4 linked regions of the Homo sapiens genome follow. The protein of the gene in region 1 interacts with the protein of each later gene in a pairwise test. Each region holds a gene or a part of one and is shown in the gene's direction. Other genes may lie near its edges.

The links.
Region 2: the proteins of FCHSD2 (region 1) and ABCF3 interact in binary tests that used the Homo sapiens proteins (3 or more experiments, as listed by UniProt).
Region 3: the proteins of FCHSD2 (region 1) and SASS6 interact in binary tests that used the Homo sapiens proteins (3 or more experiments, as listed by UniProt).
Region 4: the proteins of FCHSD2 (region 1) and HOMER1 interact in binary tests that used the Homo sapiens proteins (3 or more experiments, as listed by UniProt).

Annotation. Positions count from the first base shown.
Region 1 is NC_000011.10:72,978,317-72,985,349, reverse strand, and holds part of FCHSD2 (F-BAR and double SH3 domains protein 2), read left to right. Parts: intron 1-233; coding exon 234-288; intron 289-1,133; coding exon 1,134-1,262; intron 1,263-7,033. UniProt on the Homo sapiens protein: Adapter protein that plays a role in endocytosis via clathrin-coated pits. Contributes to the internalization of cell surface receptors, such as integrin ITGB1 and transferrin receptor.
Region 2 is NC_000003.12:184,189,166-184,194,505, forward strand, and holds the end of ABCF3 (ATP-binding cassette sub-family F member 3), read left to right. Parts: intron 1-89; coding exon 90-112; intron 113-222; coding exon 223-278; intron 279-391; coding exon 392-592; intron 593-689; coding exon 690-766; intron 767-1,833; coding exon 1,834-1,878; intron 1,879-1,957; coding exon 1,958-2,090; intron 2,091-3,435; coding exon 3,436-3,524; intron 3,525-3,639; coding exon 3,640-3,731; intron 3,732-3,936; coding exon 3,937-4,069; intron 4,070-4,199; coding exon 4,200-4,287; intron 4,288-4,374; coding exon 4,375-4,533; 3' UTR 4,534-4,840; downstream 4,841-5,340.
Region 3 is NC_000001.11:100,129,901-100,137,070, reverse strand, and holds the start of SASS6 (spindle assembly abnormal protein 6 homolog), read left to right. Parts: upstream 1-4,140; 5' UTR 4,141-4,256; coding exon 4,257-4,321; intron 4,322-7,170. Other genes in the region: TRMT13 (tRNA:m(4)X modification enzyme TRM13 homolog), read right to left, coding at 1-52, 143-189, 3,756-3,902.
Region 4 is NC_000005.10:79,392,113-79,399,145, reverse strand, and holds part of HOMER1 (homer protein homolog 1), read left to right. Parts: intron 1-1,508; coding exon 1,509-1,619; intron 1,620-2,242; coding exon 2,243-2,323; intron 2,324-7,033. UniProt on the Homo sapiens protein: Postsynaptic density scaffolding protein. Binds and cross-links cytoplasmic regions of GRM1, GRM5, ITPR1, DNM3, RYR1, RYR2, SHANK1 and SHANK3.

The DNA of each region.
Region 1 (7,033 bases):
TGGATATTTGTCTTATATTAATCCCAGTATTTCCTGTTTTACCATGATAATAAATTCTTCCTGTAGTAAAATAAAGGAAAATAATCATTACTCTTGGTTTTCCATTTTTTCATTCTTTTTTAGAGCAGTATCTTCAAAAAAGATTATTTTTAAATTTTAATAATATATTTAGTAATTTTATTGTGATATAATTAGATGATTTTATTAAACATACTTTTCTATTTTTATTATAGATCTAAACTTAGTCTTTTTCAATCAAGAATCAGTTTACAGAAGGCAAGTGTAAAGGTAAGTTTTCAATAAGTGTATTTCACAACTGAGAAACCTCTTAGCTTGTAAAACAGAGAATTGGATCTTTGAGGGTGGAGGTGGATTATTTCTACCTTAGAGAAGCATTTTAAAGTCACTGACTCAGGGAGGAACTTTCCCTCCCAGTTCATGGGGGTTTTGCACCCAGCTGTCAACACCTTGGACACACTTGCTTCTCAAGACTGCATTAGGGATAAGTTTCTGGACCTTACCTGCTTAGGCAGCCTGTTGTCTTTAGCTCTTAGTCCAAGAGACTTAATCCGGGGGCTTTGGAAAGCTCTACAAAATCTATTTCGTTTAGATTTAGACCCCTGAGTGATATTCTGGGCCAGATGTGAGTGAGTTTTTCCTTCGGAAACTTCACACTGTGGAATGCCTGATTAAGTAAGCTTAGAGACCTGGCTGTGGCTGCCAGGCTTCAAACTAGCATGCAGTTCATCTGGCACATTAGGAGTGCTGATTTTTAAAAAACTGTTTTCTAACTCCACTAGATTTTACCCATACCTTTGAAGATAAGGTACTTATTTCAGAACCTTTATTTAGTCATTTGAATAAATGGGCAAAATATTTTTAAGTTATCTACAAAGCTTTAGAAGTATGTTAAGCAAATATTTGAAAATGCTCCTGCCCTGTATAACAGTTCTAGTCACTGTTTCATTCCTTAGTAGTGATGAATAATTTTTATATACGTATAAATGTTTTCCGCACGTGGTTACCTTTATTCTTGTTGGGGAGCCATTAATTGCAAACTAAGAGTAGGATTCCTATGTGTTTTGCAGTACAATATCAGTTTGCACTGATTATTTTATTTTGCTATGTTTTAGTTAAAAGCCCGGCGATCTGAGTGTAATTCCAAAGCTACCCACGCAAGGAATGATTATCTTCTTACCCTAGCGGCAGCAAATGCACATCAGGATCGCTACTATCAAACAGATTTAGTTAACATTATGAAGGTAATACAGCTTTCATATCTATGGTAATTTTACTTCATTGAAAACAAAAACAACTTAAGTTGGGTGTTGGGTTTATGGGATTGAATCTATAAAAGAGTAGCCAGGCTATGTTGCATCTCATTGGAATATACTTGTTATTGTTTGGATAGCATCTGTTTCAGATAATTTGGAATTAATTTTTAGTTAAGAAAATGTTTACAGACAAGTCACAGTAAAGGATTATATTATTCCCTAGGTGCGGCAAACATTTGTTATCTAGTGGTTATTGATGTAGAAGATACAAGAGTGATGTAAGAAATAAAATAATGACTCAAACTGGGAAACTACTTCTGAGCTATTTTATGAGACTCATGTCATGGTTTCAATAAATTATTGAAGCTAGGCAGAATCTTCAGGTATCTTCTGAATCATCGGAGAAAGACATTTTAGCATAATTTTTGTTAGATTGTATCTGTATTTTTTGAAAAATTTTTATAAGAAAAGTTTTATGCAAAAGAATATTTCTATTAAAAATATATTTTTATAGTGTATCTCTTAGCCTGAATTTTTTATTAACTACAATTTTGGCCACAACTATGTCTAATGATAATTATGAAGCTTTTTTTAATTTTAATTTTTTAGAGACAAGGTCTCGCTCTGTTGTCCAGGCTAGAGTGCAGTGATGATCACGGCTCACTGCAGCCTTGAACTGCCAGGCTCAAGCAATCCTCCCGCCTCATCCTCCTGAGTAGCTGGGATCCAGGTGCATGCTACCATGCCTGGCACCTTTCTTTTATTTATTTTTTTTTTTTTTTGAGACGGAGTCTCGCTCTGTCGCCCAGGCTGGAGTGCAGTGGCGGGATCTCGGCTCACTGCAAGCTCCGCCTCCCGGGTTCACGCCATTCTCCTGCCTCAGCCTCCCAAGTAGCTGGGACTACAGGCGCCCGCCACTACGCCCAGCTAATTTTTTGTATTTTTAGTAGAGACGGGGTTTCACCGTTTTAGCCGGGATGGTCTCGATCTCCTGACCTCGTGATCCGCCCGCCTCAGCCTCCCAAAGTGCTGGGATTACAGGCATGAGCCACCGCGCCCGGCCCCTTTCTTTTATTTTTAGAAACAAGAGTCTTGCTATGTTGACCAGGCTGGCCTCAAACTCCTGGCTTCAAGTGATCCTCCCTCCTAAGCTTCCCAAAATGCTGGGATTACAGGTGTGAGCCATTGTGCTTGGCTATTTTTTATTTCTAAAAAAACTTAGATTTTTAAAAAATTTCATTACGTTTATCCTGAATTTATGGGTAAAATTGCACATTACTATTTGATGATTTTGAGCTGCGTACGGGACAAACAAAAGAGTATGTTCAGTAGCTATATGAAGATGTCTGTCCTCTGGGTATTACTCTGAAATGCAGATAGATTAGATTACAGTTTGTGTACCCAAACTTGATCTAGCATTTCCCTGTTTATACCACCTATGATGTGTCTTTAACTTTCACTGAAATAAAGAGAAGATAGTAGAGGAAAAGGAAACCTTTGTAATCTGTTGCCAGGTTTCTCCCTTGTTGCTGACAGGCAAGCTCTGCTTTGGATTGTATCTGTCATTCTTTCCTGTTTTCCCAAAACCCAAACATTTTATCATTTTGTTTTTTCTTATTTTCAACCCATCCCCCTCAAATGTATTGTTCTTAATGACTAACAAACACACACATTGCTGTAGTCGAATTGCTTAATTTACAAATCAGCAATTGTGAATGGGGATGCAGCCAGAGCAGGTGCTCTTTTTTCTGCAGTAGCTCTGGAAAAGAGGTCAACTCTGGCCAGAAACTGCAAGTTCTTTCCTTGAAAGTAGAGATGGGACAGTTCTCGGGACCTTCAGGCAAAAACAAGAGTGTTGAAGGGAGTCAAACTGGACTAAGAAGTATCCTATTGCAAAAACGTTTTTTCTTTCCTTTTTGTTCACTGCCTGAAATCCCCTTTTCCTAGCTTCTGTTGTGACTTCTGCTTATTAGAATACAGGTTAGAAAATATAGAGACAAGGAACTGTTTTGTCATCTCAGATGAAAACTCTGCATATATTTTCCATAAAGTATTAGACCTAGAGGTTTAGGTGTTTTAGTATATATAGTTTTTGAGACAGGGTCTCGCTCTGTCATAACAGGCTAGAGTGCAGTGGCTTGAACATGGCTCACTGCAACCTGAACCTCCTGGTCTCAAGGGATCCTCTTGCCTCAGCCTCCCATGTAGCTAGGACCACAGGTGCCTGCCACCATACCCAGCTAATTTCTTAATTTTTATTTTCGCAGAGGCGTGGTCTCACTTTGTTGCCCAGGCTATTCTTTAACTCCTGGGCTTAAGAGATCCTCCCACCTCAGCCTCCCAAAATGCTGGGATTATAGGGGTGAGCTACTGGGCCTGGCTGGTTTTAGTATCGTATTAGGTATTACATAGTGCTTCAGACTTACAAGGACCAACAGTTTCAAAGAACACATTTACTAAAGATGATTTTTAGCACAGCTCGCACTTAAGGTTGTAATTCACTATATTCTATATATGTCTACTATTATATCAAAGCTGTATATTTTTCCCTATGAATATTTTTAAATGAACATTATATTAACTTAAGCAACAGCAAAAATAAAATCCTATTTTTTTTCTATTGGATCTACAGCTAAAAAAGATGGCCTTCAATAAACCAGAGAAAGTACATTCTTATTTGGGGGATCTGCTCTCTGCCTAAAGCAAAGAGGAAGTTAAAGGGCCTGGCCAGCTCACAGATTAATATATGTTCTCGAACTTACTTTGAAGTCTTTATGCATATATTTGATCAGCATTGGGTAGGTCATGCTTTGGAGTATTCATTTAATGAAACATTGTGGGGTACTAAACTGATTAAAAATAGAGGCAGGGGTTGGTCCCTCCTGCCCCTTAAAAATGAGAAAACATACTTTCAGTTTTCATGTACTGTACATTAACTCATTTTCTTCCTCATGCTAATTCTATAGTCTGCAGTACAGGAAAACTCCTATCAATCATGCTGTTAGCTACTTAGTAAATTTCCACCATTGAATTGTCAGTGGCCCTTAGATGCCTTTCTTGAAAATATCTGTTTTTCTGAATTAATGTTAAGGAAATATCTATTTTTCTGAATTAATGTTAAGGTGATAATGCCCTATATGGGTAGCTTAAAAGCAGGGTATTTGATTTGTTGGTTTAATCATACACATTTAAGAGCCTCTTACAGCATGCTAACTACTGAGTTAGGCTTTGGGAAGAGACAGATGAGTAAGACATACTACTTATCCTCAAAGAGCTCAATATGGTAGAAGAGAGTGAGATGTATATATATACATACACATATATATACACACACATATATACATATATATACACATACATATATATACATACATACATTATATATATATATATATATATACACACACACACATACACATACATATATACATGATTGCAAATTAGAGTGATGGAAATCACTTACTGCTGGAGGACTGTGGTTAGTAATAATAATAGCTATCTTTTTTATTGCTTAATATTGCCTTGGCATTATCCTAACCATTTAATACATGTTATCCTTTCTCATTTTCTTTGTTATCCTCGTTAAAGTTCATAGCTCATTATTTAAATAATACTCTAACTTATATTCTTATCTTTGCCCTTCTTCAAATGAAATGAAATTGTAACTCTGATGAGCCCCCATAACTGGATAATCTGTATCTAAGCAGCCAAGTACTGCTGAAGAAAAGTTTCGACGGAGCAGATTCATGATCATAAATTAATAGAGAAACCAGTGCAGCAGTTTCAACACTGCTTAGATGGCCTACTGTCTTTTCCCTAGTTAACTTTTCCTACTATTTTTAACAGTTATTTCAACTTTTCCCCCCTCTTCAAACCTCAAACTTACCCCTTCTCTTTTATGCTTAGCAAGTGGGTTTTCTTCCTAATTTACAGAGACGATAGAAACCGTTGGAAGACAGCTTCAATATTGTCCACTTCATCTGTGTTGAAGACTCTTCCAGAGTCTCAGTAGCAGTTGTTCCTGTCTAAAGGTGATCTTTTCACCTCAGCTTTGGATTATATCTCATCCCCTCCTGCCTTCTTAGGGAACAAAACAATTATTTTATGTTCTTTTCGTATTTCCTGGACATTCTGTTCTTACATTAGCAGTTATCTTGGTGATAACAACCCTCATTATGACTGTCTTTTGAGTTACATTCTTCTAATCTGGACTAGTTGCCCTCTGTGTCAGATGCAAGTATTTATCCTGAGATCTTCCTATATGTCTTTGTTGTGTTAGATCTCCAGTTTTCTTTATGATATGTCTTATTTTTTTCTTGATTTATACTGTCCTTTGGTAGAGCACATCCTCCAGTACCTTCTTGCGAAAGTGGGCATGGGAAGTAAGTTTTTTGAGATACTATGTTTATGAAAATGGCATATTATTTGCTTGTACTTGGATATAGAATTAAAGGTTGAAAACTCTTTCATTGAAACATTGGAGTCCATACCTCATTGTTTTCTTCTTTACTGTGTAAGTATTGAGAATCCAAAGCCATCCTAGTTCTTGATTATTTGTATCTGATCTAATTGTTTGTTTTTTCTTTTTTTAGAAGTTTATGGAATATTCTCAGTGTACCCTTTGATTTCTTGGATTAATTCTTCCCTTTTGTTTTCTCTTTCTGGAACTTCCCATTATTAAGATATGATATCTCCTAGCTTGCTTCTTTAAATTTCATTTCTTTCTTATTTTCCATCTTTGTCATTATGTTGTACTTTTTGGGAGACTTCTTCAACTTTACAGTTTCTTTTATTGGACTTTTAATTTTTTCATAGTAGTTTTAATGTATGAGAGTTCTGTTTTCTCCACATCCTTACCAGCATTTTTTATTGCCTGTTGTATTAGTTCGTTTTCACACTGCTTTAAAGAACTACCTGTGGCCGGGCATGGTGACTTACACCCATAATCCCAGCACCTTGGGAGGCCGAGGTGGGCAGATCACCTGAGGTCAGGAGTTTGAGACCAGCCTGCCAACATGGTGAAAATCCATCTCTACTAAAAATACAAAAAATTAGCTGTGTGTGGAGGCATGCACTTGTAGTCCCAGCTACTCAGGGAGGCTGAGGCACGAGAATCGCTTGAACCTGAGAGGTGGAGGTTGCAGTGAGCTGAGATCGCACCACTGCACTCCAGCCTGGGTGACAGAGTGAGACTTCATCTCAAAAAAAAAAAAAAAAAAAAGAAAGAGCTACCTGAGACTGGGTAATTTATGAAGAAGAAAGGGTTAATTGACTCAGTTCCGCATGGCTGGGGAGGCCTCAGGAAACTTACAATCATGGTAGAAGGCAAAGGAGAATCAAGTACCTTCTTGACATGGGGGTAGGAGAGAGGAAGCGAAGGGGGAAGTGCCACTTTTAAACCATCAGATATCGTGAGAACTCAGTCACAATCATGAGAACAGCATCAGGGAAATCGCTCCTATAATCCAGTCACCTCCCACAGGGACCCTCCCCCGATATATGGGGATTACAATTTGAGATGATGAGATTTGAGTGGGGACACAGAGCCAAACATATCACCTGTCTTTTGGATAAAAGTCATTTGACCTGGGATGACATGCTATCTAATTATAGTTTTGATTTATGTTTCTCTGATGGTCAATGATATTGAGCACCTTTTTATATGCCTGCTTGCCATTTATATGACTTTTTTTGAGAAATGTCTATTCAGATTTTTTGCTCATTTTTATTTTTTATTTTTATGTATTTATTTATTTTTC
Region 2 (5,340 bases), on another chromosome or scaffold:
ATGAAGCCCTATGGAAGATTGGTCTTAGCTCTTGGGAGGTGGCATGAGTTGCTGACCTAAAACCTCAGGCCATGTATTGTTTTTCATAGGCCAGATCTTCTGCTGTTAGATGGTGAGTTTGAAATGGGGCACCCTGACTTTAGGATGGGCAGGGGTGGTAGCATCCAAGTTCCTAGTTCTCCAGCCCTTCAATCCCAAGTGTGTGCTCCCCTGCTTCTCCAGAACCTACAAACATGCTGGATGTCAGGGCCATCCTGTGGCTGGAGAATTACCTGCAGGTGAGTGCCTGTGGGTGCTGGAGTGTGTTGGGGAAAGGCGGCCTCCAAGATACCTGGGGGCCTGAGAACTGACTGCCCTCCCAAACCGGGCCTGCTGTCCTGTGACCCCTCAGACGTGGCCCTCCACCATCCTAGTCGTCTCCCACGACCGCAACTTCTTGAATGCCATCGCCACAGACATCATCCACCTGCACAGCCAGCGGCTAGATGGTTACCGGGGAGACTTTGAGACCTTCATCAAGAGTAAGCAGGAGCGGCTGCTCAACCAGCAGCGTGAATATGAGGCGCAGCAGCAGTATCGCCAGCACATCCAGGTGTGGGGCCTGGCAGGGCTGGGGGTCCCATCCCAGGGGTTCCAGAGTGGGGGATAGTGGGGGAATTTGACCAATGCCTACACTCCTCCACCTGCAGGTTTTCATTGACCGGTTTCGCTACAATGCCAACAGGGCCTCTCAAGTGCAGAGTAAACTCAAGATGCTGGAGAAGCTGTGAGTACAGCATCCTTGGCCAGGGCCTGACTCCTGTTCTCTTCGTCTCCTTCCGCATTTGCACGCCACCCTTGCCCTACCATTCTAGGTCTCCCCTTCGCTAGAAGCCAACTGTGACTTCCTCCTCTGCTGGGAAGCAGAGTATTCCACACTGTTCTTGGAGGGCTAATCTTGACTAGCACATGGCAACCACTAATTTACTTTCTGTTTCTGCTTCTACGTATCTGCTTATTCTGGGCATTTCATATAAATGGAATCATACAATATGACCTTTGTGCCTGGTGTCTTTTACCTGGCGTCATGTGTGAGGCTCATCCATATTGTAGCGTGCGTCAGAGCTTCATTTCTTTTCGTGGCTGGATAATATTCTGTTGTGTGGATATACAGCATTTTGTTTATTGAGTCATGAGGGGCCATTTGGGTTGTTTCCATTTTGGTTATTATGAATAATGTTGCTGTGAACATTGGTGTACAAATTTTTGTGTGGACATATGTTTTCAGCTTGCTTGGGTGTATACCTAGGCGCAGAATTGCTGGGTTACCTGGTAATTCCAAATTAATGTTTTGAGGAACTGTCAAACTGTTTTCTAAAGCAACAACATCATTTTACATTCCTACCAACAAGGGATGAGAGTTCCAATTTCTCCATGTCTTTGGCAGCACTGTTATTGACTTTTTTTTTTTTAGTTTTAGCCATCCTAGTGGCTGTGAAGTGATAGCTCATTGTGGTTTTGATTTGCATTGCCTTAATAACTAATGATAATGTGCATTGGGAGTTTAATTTTGAAGTGCCCTTTCTATAAGTGCTGGCAGGAAGCTTAAAATCATAAAGCTTAGATGTTTGCGACGTGGAAACATATCACAATATAGTAACTGGGGATAAAAAGTCACAAAAAGCCTAATTCTATTTTTTAGCATACAGTAAATGAGAAGAATGGACTCTAAAGTAATGATACCTGAGTGGTAGGAGTACAAGCCCTTTCTAAGTTTTCTCTGAACATATATTACTCGTGTAGGAAGTTATTTTTTTAAGTAATAAATCTAGTCTACCTCATCTCTTCTCCCAGGCCTGAGCTGAAGCCTGTGGACAAGGAATCAGAGGTCGTAATGAAGTAAGTGCTGGGCCAGTGGGGCTGGTGGGGAATTGCTTGCTTCCAGCTGCCCCCACATCCTCACCCCTACCTCCTGCAGGTTCCCTGATGGGTTTGAGAAGTTCTCGCCGCCAATTCTGCAGCTAGATGAGGTGGATTTCTACTACGATCCGAAGCACGTCATCTTCAGTCGCCTCTCTGTGTCTGCTGATCTCGAGTCTCGCATCTGTGTGGTAAGGCTGCTGTTTCTCTGTGCTGCGAGCTGGGACTCTCCTGTCTAAGTGTGTGGTGTGGATTGGCCCAGATCCTCAGGCTGTAAAGGGACGAGGTCTGTGGAACAGGAGTGAGGGCCCGGGCTAAGGATTTTGCAGGACTTACACTAGCCCTGTCCTCTGGCCGCACAGCGCTGCTCTTCAGGGAGGAAGAGCCTAGTGTATAGTGTTTTAAAAATACTTAAAAATACTTAAAGCAGTGCTTTACCTTATTGGTCTCGGTTCTGAGTTTTCTAAACCTGGAGACATTGAGGAGAGAGCATGGGCTTCAGGGTCAGACTTCGGATCTTGACTATGCCATTTCCTAGCTTGGTTACCAAGCAGCTTCCTAACTCTTAAGATGGCGCTGACATCTACCTCACTTGGTTCTTGGGAAAAGTAAGTCCCCAGCACTTAGCAAATACTCAAGTATTGCTCACCTTAGTATATGCATTTTTCTGTAGAGTTAGAGTTCCTTTTTTTTTTTTTTCGGAGACAGAGTCCTGCCCTGTTGCCCCGGCTGGAGTGCAATGGCACAATCTTGGCTCACCGCAGCTTTCGCCTCCCGGGTTCAAACAGTTCTCCCTCAGCCCCACAAGTAGCTGAGATTACAGGCACCCGCCACCATGCCCAGCTAATTTTTTGCATTTTTAGTAGAGATGGGGTTTTACCATATTGGCCAGGCTGGTCTCAAACTCCTGACCTCAAATGATCTGCCTGCCTCAGCCTCCCAAAGTGCTGGGAATACAGGCCTGAGCCACCGTGCCCGGCTAGAGTCCTTAAAAATATTTTTTTGGTTGTTGAAGGAGTCATCGGGACTGGGGACTGCCTGGGACCCCTTCTAATTTCCTTCTCCTCTGTGTTACACACAGCGGTGCTCTTTTTATTGATACATAATTGTACATATTTATGGGGTACAGAGTGATACTTCCATGCATGTATACAATGTGTAATGATCAAATCAGGGTAATTAGCATATTCATCATAAACATTTATCACTTTATGTTGGGAACATTCAGAATCTTCTAGCTTTTTGAAAATGTACAGTCTATCATTGTGAACTGTAGCGTCCCTGCAGTGCTGTAGAACCCTAGAACTTATTCCTCCATTCCTCCTATCTAACTGCAATTTTGTTTCAGTTAACCAACCTCTCCCGAACCCCTCTCTCAATTCCCCTCCTCCCCCCTTATCCTTCCCAGCCTCTAGTAACCACAACTCTGCTCTCTACTTCTATGTGCTCAACACTTTTTAGTGCCCACATATGAATGAGAACATACCGTATTTATTTTTCTGGCACACACTGTATGACATTTTCATGTTTCTTAAGGTTGGAGAGAATGGGGCTGGGAAGTCTACCATGCTGAAGCTGCTTTTGGGGGACCTGGCACCTGTTCGGGGCATCAGACACGCTCACAGGTCAGGCCCACCCGCACCCCTGCCCCCATGAGCACATTTGCAGGCACCCATGCTGCCTGCGCTCCTTCGTGGCCATTGCCTTTGTCTGTTTTTCCACCTCGGCTTCTGCCTGCAGGAATCTGAAGATTGGCTATTTCAGCCAGCACCATGTGGAGCAGCTGGACCTAAACGTCAGTGCTGTGGAACTGCTGGCACGCAAGTTTCCTGGTGAGTTAGGGATTTGAGTCGGGGGAAGAGTTTGAGTAGGGAAGAGGGCTGAGGCTGACCCCGGCAGCTAGGCCTGCCTTGGGGTGCGTGCAGAGCAGCCCCGCCAAGCCTAGATGGAAGGACATGGGGACTTGGAGGTGTGGCTGGAGGGCACAGGGAGGGTGTTGGGCCAAGAAGCCACCTGATCTGGGGAGTCCTTTTCCAGGGCGGCCTGAGGAGGAGTACCGTCACCAGCTGGGTCGGTATGGCATCTCCGGAGAACTGGCCATGCGTCCTCTTGCCAGCCTGTCTGGGGGCCAGAAGAGCCGAGTGGCCTTTGCTCAGATGACTATGCCCTGGTGAGGCCTCATTTTCCAGAGCTCTTCCCCTCCCATTTCCCCTTCTTGCCCAGTAGAAAACTGTATCAGAAGGCTTTATTTTCTCTCACCGCACCCCTTCACTGCCCACCTTCCTGGTTCTGCCTTCCAGCCCCAACTTCTACATTCTGGATGAACCCACAAACCACCTGGACATGGAGACCATTGAGGCTCTGGGCCGTGCCCTCAACAATTTCAGGGTGAGTGTGCCTTCACCCTGACCACTCCTCCCAGGCCTCGGTGCCTCTTGTGTCCCCCTGAGCACCTCCTGCCCTCCTGTCTTTCAGGGTGGTGTGATTCTGGTGTCCCACGATGAGCGCTTTATCAGGCTGGTGTGCCGGGAGTTGTGGGTATGCGAAGGAGGCGGCGTCACCCGTGTGGAAGGAGGATTTGACCAGTACCGCGCCCTCCTCCAGGAACAGTTCCGCCGCGAAGGCTTCCTCTAGGGCCACCAGGCTGAGGACTCGCCCAGGACATGGACTGGTCTCTCAGACCCCTGGGCCACCATGTAGGCCACCACTCCAGGCCGTGGACTTCCCCCAACTTGGGGACAGCCTTATTCCCAAATGTCTCTATCCTTTTGACTGGAGCATCTTCTGCACAACCTTGGGAGCCCATCCAAGGGTTGGTGAGGACTGGTCTCCCGGGGGTGGGGGTCTGGGGGGTACCCTCTGGGGTTATAGATTCCCCCACTGCCCCAGCTCTGACTGGACCCCAAGTGGCTGCTATGTAAATTAAATCTCTCCCCGCGTCTCCTTTGCCTCATGTCTGCTGCTCCCTGGGCAGTGGTTGCCTCCTACTGAGGGCTGTGGACTCTCGGATTGGCGTTTTCCTATGGCACTTGTATCCCTCACGTGTAGGAAGCAATAGCAGCACCAGCCTTGCCTCTAGAAGAGACATTGTCAAGCTACTGGGGCATGGAGGTCATCTGCCTGCCTGACCTTGGGGTGGGCTGAGCCAGTGGAATGAAGGGCAGTGTATTGGCATCATTGCGGTGCTGTTAGCCCTAGCCTGGGCTCAGCCTCAGCTGAAGGGGTCTTGGGTTCTGTCGTCACAGCCCCCACTGATGGGCAGTTGAACTGATTGTGTAACCTGGCCTCACACGTGGCCAGCTGCTTTCTCCAGTCATATCTGGCTCCGGCTTGCCCTGCTTCTCTGCTCTCTAGACTCAGCACTGAAGAGAAACCATCTTTGTCCTCACTTTGCTTGGGTGATTGCATGTTCTTTATATTTCCTCTAACCATATAGGAGGG
Region 3 (7,170 bases), on another chromosome or scaffold:
TCTTGAGTTACATTTTTTCAAATGCTTTGCTAGTTGATCTTCATATACTGTGCTAAATTTAAAGAGAAAATTATTTCAAATGAGACTTGTGCCAATTACTGTTTCCAGCACAAAAAAAAACCCGTATCTGATCCACACTTACTGTTTTGGATCTAAAGGACACAGGATTCTTTTCCGAGCATCTTCTTCCTAATAAATTAAGAGATACATTTATTTAAATAAAATATCAAGTTTATTGCTTACAGATACCAGATATAACTTCAGTGTCTCTGTAATCTCAAAACAAGGTAAGGAAACCTTACAAGGACATAATGAAAAGTTGGCAAAATCAGGTCCCAAGGGTTTAACAAAAACTCTCCAGTGTACTGGCTTAAATACATATGAACAAATACTGCTTTGGACAAACAAGGGTCTATAGCTTCAAACAGGGTATAGAGAAGGCCTACATATGGTGTCTGAAATCTAAGATAGCATCAACTATTATATGTATGACTATTTTATGCACAACCAAGAAAGAAAAAAATGCTGCCTATTTCATGTTAATTGACAAATAGTTGTATATATTTATCACATATTAGGTTTGTACAAAAGTAATTGTGATTTTTATGGCAATAAAAATAATATACACTATTATTTATGTATGGTTTTAATACAACATAATGTTTTCAAATATGTATACATTGTGGAATGGCTAAATCAAGCTAATTAACATGTATTGCCTCACATACTAATCATTTTTTGGAAAATGCTGCCCATTGACATATGGATTTTAAGATGTATCCTGATTTTAGAATGTTAAAATGTAAAAATAAAGTTTCTTAGAAACAATGGAACATGGCATTTTAACCATTTGGATGTGCCATATTTTACTGGCTTTGCAACTTTTTACTATCAGTTACATCCTACTCATTCCTAAGTTACATCACTTAATGACTGGGAATACATTCTGAGAAATATATCTTTAGGTGATTTTGTCATTGGGAGAACATCATACAGTATAGTAACACAAACCTAGATAGTATAGCCTACTGTACATCTAGCCTATATAGTATAGCCTATTGCTACTAGGCTGTAAACCTGTACAGCATGTTACCATACTAAATACTGTAGGCAATTGTAACACAATGTAAGTATTTGTGTATCTAAACATATCTAAACATAGAAAAGGTACAGTAAAAATACAGTATTATAACCTTATGGGACCACCATCATATATGCGGTCTGTTGTTGACTGAAATGTCATTATGTGGCACATGACTATATGAACTGGGAAAAAAGAAAGGAAAATTGATAATGTTGGCAATTCTACCCAATATTCCACATGAATCTGTATAAATAGGGGTCATATAACAGTTAAGAACACAGGCCAGCCAGACTGCCTAGGTATGATACCCAGCTCTACCTACCAGCTACGATCCCTATGACCTTAGTTAGGTAGGCTTACTGCCTCATCTGAAAGATGAGAACAAAAATATGTCTTACCTTCTAAGGTTTGAACACATTAAGTGAGCTAATAGTTAACAAAACAAAACTGCCTAGCCCAGTGCTGTACATAGAGTAAGTGGTGACTAAGTGTCTGCTATTATTATTCTTTTAAAAATTTATTTCTGTTCGAATGTGCCTCTCAGCATGTCCATGAAGCTATTCACACTGAATTTCATGGGAAAGCTAAGAAATTTTTTTTTTGAAAATACTATATATTCAATAGAAGAAAAAGAAAATACTGTATATAATTTCTTCCTTATTGCTGACTTTAAATCCTAACCTCCATGTAAAAGACTATTCTAACCCCCAGAGCCTAACTGTAGCATAGGAAAAAAAAAGCACATTTAAAATTTATTAGTTGAATTTAGAAACAGGAATTCTCAATCTTGGCACTATTGACGTTTTGGGCAGGTAATTCTTTTGAGGGGGTGAGTGCAGGGGGCTGTCCTGTGATTTGTAGGAGGTTTAGCAGCATTTCTGGTCTCTATCCATTAGATGTCAGTGATACTCCTCAGTTTGACAACCAAAATGTCTTCATTTTGCCAAGTGTTCACTGGAGGCAAAATCAGTCCCAGTCGAGAACCACTGGGTAAAAATGAGTGGTGTCATCACAGCTATATATGACACTTAGAAAAAAAGATGGAAACACAACATCCAGTTACATCATAAATTACAGATTCAGGAGGATAGCCACAATTTAAAACGAGATAGTAGTCAATAAAAGTGTTTCCACTTGATGTTTTGCGGTCTCTCTTCAAGTGTCTAATGACAATATGTCGTTCCTCTATAGGAATACTAATCAGCTTGTAAGGATTTATTCATATTCTACTATCATCACTATTTGTTTTCACCTTCCATATATCTGGATAAGGTGGAGTCTAAATCCTTCTCCTATCATAACTCTCATTCTTCAACAAGGGATGTTTGCCAGTCCCCTCAAAACCAGTCAATAGACTATGGGCATAATTCAGAGTTCCCACAACAAATCACGTCTCCCATATTCCAAAACAAGAATGTCCTTGTTTCAGTATGCTTCACTTTTGGTAAATGCCAGTCAAAACAAAATAGGAAGTAGACTACAACTATGATGGAGAGTGGCAGATGAAGGGGGTCAGGGGACTGATCTGCACTGGATATTGTCTAGAAGAATAAATTCCTTAAGAAATAAAATAATGCAAATAATACTGAACATTCAGAAGCATGAAATCTGATGCTGATCGCTTTGGTTTATTCTTTATAGTTCTGTGGAACTATAAGGACATGCTCTCTTCCTATGAGCATTTTGCTCCTCTGGTTTTTATTTTCCCATCTCATATATATCCTAAAGTAATATACATATATACAAATATAAAGTGTTTGATAGTACATTTATATGCATAATTATCAAACAAAATTGTATGCTTTGTTCTCAATTGTAAAAGGTCAATTCGTATATATTTAAAAATCTTTCCTTCCCATTCCAGCAAAGTTGCATTCTTAAAAACTGTAAGTCGAAAAAAATTTTTTTTTCTTTTTTGAGATTCAGTCTGGCTGTCACCCAGGCTGGAATGCAGTGGTGTGATCTTGGATTATTGCCACCTCCACCTCCTGGGTTCAAGCGATTCTCCTGCCTCAGCCTCCCGAGTAGCTGGGGTTACAGGCTCGCACCACCACGATTTTCTTAATTTTAGTAGCTCGCGCCACGGCTGATTTTCTTATTTTTAGTAGAGAGAGGGTTTCATCATGTTGGCCAGGCTGGTCTCGAGCTCCTGACCTCAAGTGATCCGCCCGCCTCGGCCTCCCAAAGTGCTGGGATTACAGGCGTGAGCCACCGCGCCGGGCCTCAAGTCTAAATTTTTAAAAGAAAGTTTCTTCCAACCGCATTCACGAGAAGTGCTTCTCTTTCATGAAATAACAATTAGAACACAACTAGTGAAACCTTTGGGACTTCAATCACTACTTTTTCTAAACTACCACTTTCCAGCAGGAAGACGGAGCGGTAGCTTGGGGTAAAAATTAAAACCTAGCATTACCATGAGTTAAGATCGAGATAAATAGATCAAAATAAATGGGTCACTGCTGGCGCTTTACTTAGAAAAATAAAAAATTTCTCATCACTAGAACTCATAATCGCTCCGCAAGGAGGGCAAAACTGGGTTTATTAAAGTGAAAGCTGGAGAATCCAGGGGACACAAGCAGAAAGCTGTCAAAGAGGGGAGGGGCCGGGTTCCAGCACCGACAGGACCAGGATACTTATTTCCGACTCTTGAGAGAGTAGGGCGATACCACACCTCCGCGGCTCCAGCGTGTTCACCACAAAATCTTTTCCCTGCGGCCACCACCATCCTGCAGAACCGTTTCTTCTTTTCCACATAGTAACCGCATCTACCCTCAGCTGGAAAACCAGGCGCGTGCGGCGACGTCGCGGAGGTCGCCATAATTCTAGGGCTCGCTTCCGGTGTCCAGCATCCGGCAACCAGAAGAAAAGTTAGAAGCTTCCTTCGGGTCTCCTTCCCTTAACAAACATGGCTGCCTCAGCCCCCGCGCCACACAGGTTAATACCCGGAACTACCACAACCGTCTTCCCTTTATCCTCCGCAGAACCGGAAGAATCCGATGGTGGCTGGCGAGGGCCAAGTCTCTTACGCCTTCCCCTCGTTTCTCCCTCCCCGCCTCCTCCGCAGAAGCCGAGCGCCAAACTCAAACTTTATCAGGACCCGGACCTCTCAGGCTAATCCCGAGGGCCGGGCCTGTTGGGCTTTTCTGCACACCAGCCGAGGCAGCGAGCCAACATGAGCCAAGTGCTGTTCCACCAACTAGTCCCGTTGCAGGTGAAATGCAAAGACTGTGAGGAGAGGTAAGGTCCGCGTCATCCAGTGCCCGCGGGTGGCGGTTGGGGTCAGGCCAATGGGGAAAGATGGCGGTTCTGGCCCGTGGGATCCACCTTGCACCTAGGTGTCGAGTCGGCCCCCCTAGGAAGCGGATAGGGAACCCAGAGGGCCCGGTGGTTACCTCTCTCACCAAGTCGGCCGTTGCAGAGGGGACTGGAGGAAGGGTGTGAGGAGTTAGGAAGCCGGCTCACATCAAGTTAATGTCAAAAACCCTACCTGTGCACGGAATCGTGAAGATTATAGCCCTACTCTTCCCTTTTGACAGATAAGAACTCTGGCCCAGAGAAGTTAAAAAAATTTACGTGAGGGCTCACAGCCAGTTCATGGCAGGGTCAGGACTAGAACTCAGGCCTTGGCTCCGAGCCTTTCCCCCTCGTTCTCTTTTGAAGTATGTTGGCAGTAAAGTTCAACTTTTAAAAACCTACCAATTTGGTGGCGTACTTTGGCTCTTCACATCAGTTGCTTTAAAAAAGTAAATTACATTTAACCGACTAAAAATGAGAAAAGCAGAAACGTCATTAATTCATTCAATAAATATTGCCTCCTTGTAAAACACCTTACTGGGCACTGGGAATACAGTGGTCAGGAAAAACAGTCCTTTTCTTCATGGAGTTTACAATCACTGGAGGAAATAAAGACCAGTCGCACAGAGAAGTGCAACTTTGATTAAGGAGGTGGTATTATTGGGGCGTAAATAGATTTGACCAGAGGTCAGGAGACTTACTTTTTTTTTCTCAGTTCTAACACTCAATGGTTGTCTCTTTTTTTCTCTGAACGTTCTTTCCTCATTTGTAAAACTGATATAACATGCGTATTCACGTGTTTGTAATGAGGATCAGGTGTGAAATCTTTTGCGTATTCACGTGTTTGTAATGAGGATCAGGTGTGAAATCGTATGTGAAAACTAAGTGGTGTACAAATGTAACATAAAAAATGAAGACATTGCCTTATTGAGTTGCCAGTAATGTCAAACTGTAGTATATATAGTTCAGAATTCGGTCAAAAATCAATGGCAAGCCGGTCAAGGAGATGGTCCCAAAACCAGCAGCTGCATATGGAGATCTGTAGGTTTAGTTGATCATTCTTTTAATGCTGTCCAGTATGGTAGCCACTAGCCACATGTGGTTATTAGACATTTGAAATGGGGCTTATCTGAATTGTTGTGCTTTACATATGAAAATGCACGTTGGATTTTTAAGACTTACTATGAAAAAAGAATGTAAAATATGTCAATTTTTATATTATGTGTTAAATGGCAATATTTTTGGGTATATTGGGTTAAATACAATGTATTATTAAAATTAATTTCACCTGCTTTTAAAAGTCTTTTTAAAATGTGACTTCTAGAAAATTTAAAAGTAGGCTAGGTATGGTGGCTCACACCCGTAGTCCCAGCACTTTAGGAGGCCAAGACAGGAGGATTGCTTGAGCCTAAGCTTGAGGTTACAGTGAGCTACTATTTGTGCCACTGTACTCCAGCCTGGGTGATAGAGCGAGATCCTGTCTCTGAAAAAAAAAAAAGAAAAAGAAAAAAATTAAAATTACATACCTGGCTCACATTTGTGGCTTACATTGTATCTCCATTGGACAACACTGTTTTAGAATGATTATAGAAAGATAAAGGAGGCCATGACTTTGGTTTCAATATGGAAACTCCTAGATGGTCTCTTTCTGGTTACATTGCCATCACAGTTAATCTAAAAACTCAATTTCTCTGCTTAGAAACCTTTAATATATTCCTATTATCTGTATAATAGGGGTCAGCAAACTGGAGCACATGGGCCAGTTGGCTCACTGTTTTCGTAAATAAACTTTTCTTGGAATACAGCCATGCTCATTTGTTTACATATTGTAGCTGCTTTTGCACAGGAAGGGCAGAGATGAGTAATTGTGACAGAGACCTTATGGCCCGCAAAGCCTAAAATATTTGCTATCTGGCCCTTTACAGAATAATTTGGTGATCCTTGACCTATAGGAAGAACAACCCAGACTCTCTCTCTTTCTCTCTCTCTTTTTTTTTTTTTTTCTAGACAGAGTCTCGCTCTGTTGCCCAGACTGGAGTATTGTAGCACGATTACAGCTCACTGCAGCCTTGACCTCCTGGGCCCAAGGGTTCCCCTCACCTTAGCCTCCTGAGTAGCTGCAATTACAGGCGCATACCACCACGCCTGGCTTTTTTTTGTTGTTAATTTAATTTAAAAGAGACGGGGTCTCCCTGTATTGCCCAGGCTGGTCTTGAACACCTGGGCTCAAGTGATCCTCTCACCCCAGCCTCCCAAAATTCGGGGATTATAGGCGTGAGCCACCACGCCCAGCCCAGACGCCTTGGTTGAGTATTTGAGGCCAGTTCAGCTCAACAAATACTGGCAAATGTCTGCTGTGTCTCAGGAACTGTCCTAAGTGTGGAGGATGTAAATACGCACCCCCCTCTCCGTCCCCAACAACAACAAAAGCCAACAAAAACCTCTTTTCATTCTGTCCCTCAAGGAACTCACATTTTAATAGGGGAAATAAGATTTTCCTTGAACAGGCACCATAGCACAGATTAGGAGTTCAGGCTCTGGAGCCAGATTGCCTGGGTTTAAGTCCCAGTTCTTCCACTTACTGACAGATCTTGTACAATTTCCTTCTCTGTGTCTCATCTTTAAGTTGATGGTAATAACAGTACCTACTTCATGGTATTATGAGAATGGAATGAATTATACATATGAACTGCTTACAACAGTGACTAGAGCATAATAAATGTTCACTAAATTTTAGGTATTAATGTGTGACAAATGCATAAAGTAATATAAGTACACTAAAGTCAGAGAAG
Region 4 (7,033 bases), on another chromosome or scaffold:
TTGCAATTGTTACCTATAGGAAAGTTACTCCAATAAAAACTATTTCATCATTATCAGAATTGGAACTCCCTTTAAGGAATTTATTATATAATGAGACAAAACAAATACACATTAAACAATAAGTGAAATAATTCCCAAGATTTTTGAACAGATGCTTGGTTTTGTGAACCAGAGGAGAGCCTTGAAGACTTGAGCAGATAGGAATGGCTTTCTGGAGAAAGCACATGCTGAGCTAAGAGTTAAGGGTTCGGTTAGGTCCGAGTGGTTTTCAGAGGCAAGAGAGGACATTCTAGTTAAATCAACAAGTTGGGAATGAATATCACTTGTTCTTAGGACAAGGAGATTTGCCTGCTTTTAGTTGGAAGTACTCACTGAGTATCTTGGGCAGTGTGGATGGTTGAGAAGGTTGGGGCCAATATACAGAGGATCTGAGCGTTTAGATCTGATACCGTAAAAAAGATGAGCTGCTGAAAGTCTTTGAATGGTGGAATCACAGGAATGAAAGATGAATCTTAGCAATTTGCAGAATAGACAAAAAAAAGATTATAATTAAGTCCACTGGGAGGCTGTTGGTTTTGTTCAGGTCTGGATGATAAGGGTTTGTAACGAGGCTATTAGTACATGAGAAGAAAGGAAGAAAATTATATAAGAGAGAGAATCACAGAATGTAGAGGGTAATTTGATATTTGGAAAATGCCAGGGAGAGGGATTTACTCTGTTTCTTTAATAGTCTAGAATTTACTATCTTCTAGTAAACCAAAATTTTATGAGCACATGATATATGTAAAGAACTGTGATAGGGTGTGTGTGTGCATGTGTGTGTGTGTGTGTGTGTGTATTTATATTGACTTCTGTCTATTGCTGATTCTAGTTTTAGATGGTATAACTTGAAGGACAGTGCCCCTCTCTGTTCTCTCAAAAAATACCAAGTGCTCATTAAAAGTTATATTACTCTTTGGGCCCCCAGTAAATTCTTATTGACTAACAAAATTTTATCTTACCCGTAAGAGACACTGTTGATGTAAAGTCATTCCAGTATCTAATGATTTAAGTTGTATTTTAAGCCTATTTTCTCTTCCAGATTCTCTTACATGTTGGAAATGTATTTGAAAAAATTCTCACTTCTGCAAGGCCAGTTTTCAGAACCCATATTGAATTTGAAGGCTACAGATGAAGGACAGATGGTCATATCTGATCTTGAATATGTTTTTGGAAGAAATTTTTACAGAAGACTTTCATTATAGGGATTCTCTACTGTCATTAATCACTTAATTTAAGTTATCCTAACCTTTCTATGACTAAGCCATGTAAATGATTATTTTTCCCTTTTCCTAGTTTTATATCTTTGAAGAATCTATTCACTCTACCTTGAGTGTCTTAATATTTCTCAAAATTAATTTTTATATATTTATTCAGAATATACTATTCACTTATTTGGGGCTATGTATTTAGCAAGAAACTCTTTAAAGTTGAAATTTAAGTTAATCTGTGTTCTCATTTAATTTTAGGTGACTGAACTTGAATGTGTTAGTAGCCAAGCAAATGCAGTACATACTCATAAGACAGAATTAAATCAGACAATACAAGAACTGGAAGAGACACTGAAACTGAAGGAAGAGGTATTTGCTGCTTTTTACTCATCTGTAATCTAGCTAACATGTTTGTACAAAGTATTAGATTCCATGTCAAATTTAAAAGTATTTTATGGAATAAAGTCAGGTTGTGACCTCTTTTTTAGGATGAAATTTTTCTTGAGTGGTATTAAGCTTGCTCATATTTTCTCTATCCTTATTTCTGTTATTATGAACTGTGGTGAGGCAGTCAGACCGAGATACCACCTGTTGCCTTCCAGATGAGAGTTGCATTTATACAGTCAACAGAAAATCATTAGGGGTTAAATGGATTTTAAAAGCTGTTGGTTTCTCTGGGTTCCAGTCAAAACTTTAATATCTTAGGAAAGAATTATATCCACAAAGCTTGAAGCAACATTAAAATGTTCAGGTTGTTATTTCTAAGCATTGCTGTACCAGAAGCACCAAGTTAGACTTGTTGCTGTTGCTTAAGATTATTGTTCTAGACAACATACATATAAAGATGAATTCATCCCTCTAAAAGTCAATATGAAGGAATGTTTTTAAAATCATCTTTTTCTAAGAACTAGAACAATAATTTCAGGGAAAAACAAGACCTTCCCTTGCCTTGATATAGTTTGAATGTTAAGACATTGCTCTGTCTTTTCTAGGAAATAGAAAGGTTAAAACAAGAAATTGATAATGCCAGAGAACTACAAGAACAGAGGGATTCTTTGACTCAGAAACTACAGGTGAGCTGTAGTAAAAATTGTTATTCACTTCTGCATAGAAAGGCATCATTTTTTCACATAGCACTGACTTTTTTTCTGAGACTCCATTTTGTAGGTTTTTGGTCATTTTTCTTTTCCGGGACTTCTGATTCATGCCTAATCTTTGATTTTTAAAAAGTTACTTGATAACTTCATCTATGTAGCTTATAATTATCATAGATGGTCATTTATAAATTGTAAATTATTTAGTAAATCCTTTTGGAAATTTCTACTTTTAATTAAAAAAAAATACTCTGGGTTTGGGCATGGTGGCTCATACTTGTAATTTCAGCACTTTGGGATGCTGAGGAGGAGGATCACTTGAGCCCAGGAGGTTGAGGCTGCAATGAGTCATAATCACACCACTATACTGCAGCCTGGAACAGAGTGGGATCCTGTCTTAATAAAAAGAAAGAGAGAGAGAAAGAAAGAAAACCCTGAATTTAAAGAAAAATTTGCAAATTGATTTCATTCAATTTGGGAACATTATTATTATTATTATTATTATTTTACAATGTACTAATGTATGAATTATACCAATAGTTGTGCCCTAATGGAACACAAGTTAGTACTTTTCGTTCTTCAGTGTAATTAATTTTACTCACTTTTTTCTGCATAAATAGTATTCTTCCTGATTCCAGTGTACAAAAAACATCATGTGTCAGTGATAGTCAGACATGGTAAGGGAAGATTTCTCAGAATTTATTACCAAAGTCTTCTCTTGCCAGCTCAGGCAGTTTTCTTACACCCTCAGCGTTAGGTGCCTCAATAAAGAAGGGTTAGGATGACTTTGGAGTAGAAATAAGTATATGTATAGAGTGAGGAATCTGAGATAAGGCATAATAAGAGGGACCTGAAAGCCCAGGATTGGAAAGAGGACCTAGATTATAATAAGAACAGCCAACATTTATTGAGTGCTTGCAACATATCGGACACTGGGCTTAGCACTTTACCTGTATTATGCATTTAATCCATGTAACAGTCATAATAACCCAGATGAAGAAACTGAAGCTTGGAGAGGTTAACTTGTCCAACCTATATTTAAATGGAGACAGTCAAATTTTAAAATCCAAATCTTTGACCACTAAGATAATGGTCAAAATACATTATTTTAGTAGTCAAAGACATGGGCTTTAAACCCCTTCATAATAATCCTTCATGAAATAAACAGATTCCTTATATAAAATGGAATATTTACCTCTCCCCTTCCCATCACTGGCTTTCAGTAGTCTGGGAAAAATGAGATCACTTGTTTTGGTTGGCCCTATTAAATGCCGTTTGTATATTTTAGTCGTCTATATAGATTAGTGGTCATCAACTTGGGGCACTTTTGAAGCCCAGGGGACATTTAGCAATGTGTGCAAACATTTTTTATTTTCACAATTAGTGGAGCGCCACTGATATCTAGTAGACAAAGCCAGAGATGCTGCTAAGAATCAGATTATCCAACCCAAAATGTCAATAATGCCAAGGTTGAGAAATCCTGATGTAGAACTTAAATATGAAGCATGGAATCAGGGCTGGAAGAAAGGGGGAAATTCAGTCAAGTTTTGTCTTTCGTTTGTTTTGGGTTTCGGGTACTTGCGATGATTCAAGCATATGTTAAGCACTTAACTTACATTAGCTCTAATTCTCACAGTAGCAGGTGAGGTATCCCCATTTTCAAAGAGAAGACAGCAGTTCAAAGGTGTTAACAAGTTTAATTAAGGCACTTAGCTAGAAAGTAATGAGGCCTAGATTTATTTTATTCCAAAGTCCGTTCTTTCTGCATTACCACACTTCTTCAAGCAACAAACAGTCAAGTCATCCTTAATGATTCTTTTAAAAAGTATTTTCAGTTATATACACATTTACATTGTCTCACTTATGAAGAGAAACAAAGAGATGATATATTTATATCAAATTTCTAATGTTGATAATTCTAAATGTATTTGAAGCCAGGCATAGTTGCTTATGCCTATAATCCCAGTGCTTTGGGAGGTTGAGGCAGGAAGATCTCTTGAGGCCAGGAGTTCAAGGCCAACCTGGGCAACATAGCGAAATGCTGCATCTACAAAAAAATGAAACAGTAGAATTAGCTGGGAGTGGTGGTGTGCACCTGTAGTCCCAGCTGCTTGGATCACTTGAGCCTCGCTTGAGTTGGGAGTTGCAGTGAGCTATGATCACACCACTGCACTCCAGCCTGGGTGACAGAATGAGACCCTTTCTCAATAAATGTATGAATGAATGGATTTCATCATTGATAGAGCAGTAATTGAATTTTATAGCTGGCACTTGAAATTGTGAATATAATTCTTACCCATCCTTTCACTGAATATCAAAAATATTATCAAAACAACCTACCTAGAACAGGACAGGGAAGCTTTTAGAAAACCTGAGGATGAATTCTAAAAGAACAAGCTACAGAAAATAACATATTTTTTCCAATTCAAAGAAATTTCCTCCTCTGCAGCCTTCTCCCTCCCACAGAAACATCTCCTGTTTATCAAAGGTCCCAGCACCCTTGAACTCCATTCATAAGTTCAGTACAGAAAATTGGGATCATTAAATTCCTTGGAAAAGAATCCTGAAATTGCAGTATTTAGAGTTGGATTAGTATTTAGAGTTGAATGTGGATAGAAAATGTATAGTTATTGGTAAATTAAGGATACCGTGCTACAGTTTTTCTAATTTATGAGTTTTTGATATTTGGCAATATTTGGATATTTCTGTTATAAATGTCTATGAAAAACATGCCCATTGTAAAAAAAATTAGAAAAATTTCAAAAAATGTACTTAGCAAGGTTAGTATAAAATCATAATTCCATAATATTAAAAAAATCATAATCCTGTCATCTTAAGGCAAGGTAACTGGCATTTCCTTGTCCCAGTGTTGGTTTAGATAATATTTTCTTTATAAGAGATGGATATAGATACCATTTTTTGTTTGTATACATTTTTATCTAACTTTATGTCATAAGCCCAATGGCTGCATAGAATTCTCCCATATAGAGGTATCATAGTTTTCTTCCAGCATTCCTATAGTAATGGCAGTTTATGTTGTTTCCAGTGTTATGCTATAAATAAATAATATTACAACCTTTTTCATAAATCTTTGCCTTTCTGATTATTTCTTTAAGATAAACTTTCAAACAAGAATTGCTTGGTGTCAATGTTTTAAAATTTCTTATGCTGGGAAATTGACATCTGGAAAAGCAGGGTACCCACTGGATATTGGTACCCCCTGGACCCGTTCTTTGCCATCTCTTAAGAAATGAAGTGACTCAACTATTTAGTTAATTTTTAAATTATGAATAACATTGAACAATTTTTCACATGCATTTAGTCTTTACCTGTATCTTGAAGTCACGAGTGCATTTTCACCTTAGAGCATGTGGAATATCTTTGCCTGGAATTCTTTGCCCAAATCTTCAGATGGCTGGCTTCTATTTTTAGTTTAGGTCTTAGTTCAGATGTTAATTTCTCTGACTTCCCAATTTAAGGACTATGCTACAGTCCCCACACCCCATCCCAGGTATTTTTTGTAGTATTACCATTTTTTATTTTCCTTTTAGTACTTATCACTAGCTGAAATGATCTTGTTTTTTATTTCTATTTTGTTTTTAAGCTATTTATTTTTATTTCAATAGGTTTTTGGGAACAGGCAGTGTTTGGTTACATAAATAAGTTCTTTAGTTAAACTTTTTATTTTGAAATAATTTCAGTCTTACAGAAAAGTTGCAAGAATAATACAGAAATTTTTTATATACCCTTTACTTACATTCCCCAAATGTCATTTTGGCTATATTTGCTTTGTTTTATTCTGGATGGCTCTCTTCTCTCTCTCTCTCTCTCTCTCTCTCTCTCTCTCCCTTTCCCTTCTTTTCCCTCCCTCCCTCGTAAGACAGTGGTAAGTATTCATGTATTTGTATCTAAGCACATCTAAACACAGAAAAGGTAGAGTAAAAATACAGTAGAAACGATAGAAAAGGTACAGTAAAAATACAGTAGAAAAGGTAAAAATTGTACACTTGAATAGGACACTTATCATGAATGGAACTGTAGGACTGGAAGTTGCTCTGGGTGGGTCAGTGAGTGAGTGGTGAGTGAATTTGAAGACCTAAGATATTACCATACACTGCTGTAGACTTTATCAACACTGCACTTAGACTACACTACATTTATTTTTTAAAATGTTATTTCTTCAATAATAAATTAGCCTTAGCTTACTGTAACATTTTAACTTCATAAACATTTAAAATTTTTTTAACTTTTTACTTTTTTGTAATAGCTGCAAACATAAACATGTATTCAGCTGTAGAAAACTATTTTCTTTATATCCTTAGTCTGTAACCTTTCTTCCTATTAAAAAATGTTTTTAAAACTTTTTAAACTTCTTTTAAAAAACGAAGACACAAACACACATATTAGCTGATGCCTACACAAGGTTGGGATCATCAATATCACTGTTTTCTACCTCCACATCTTGTCCCACTAGAAGGTCTTCAAGGGCAATAACAGGCATGGAGCTGTCATCTCCTATGATAACAATGCCTTCTTCTGGAATACCCCCTGAAGGACCTGCCTGGGGCTGTCAGATAATTAATGTTTTTTTAAATAAGTAGAAGGAGTACACTCTAAAATAACTTGAATAGTAATAAATAGTATAGTATAATAAATATATAAACCAGTGACATGGCCATTTATTTTTAT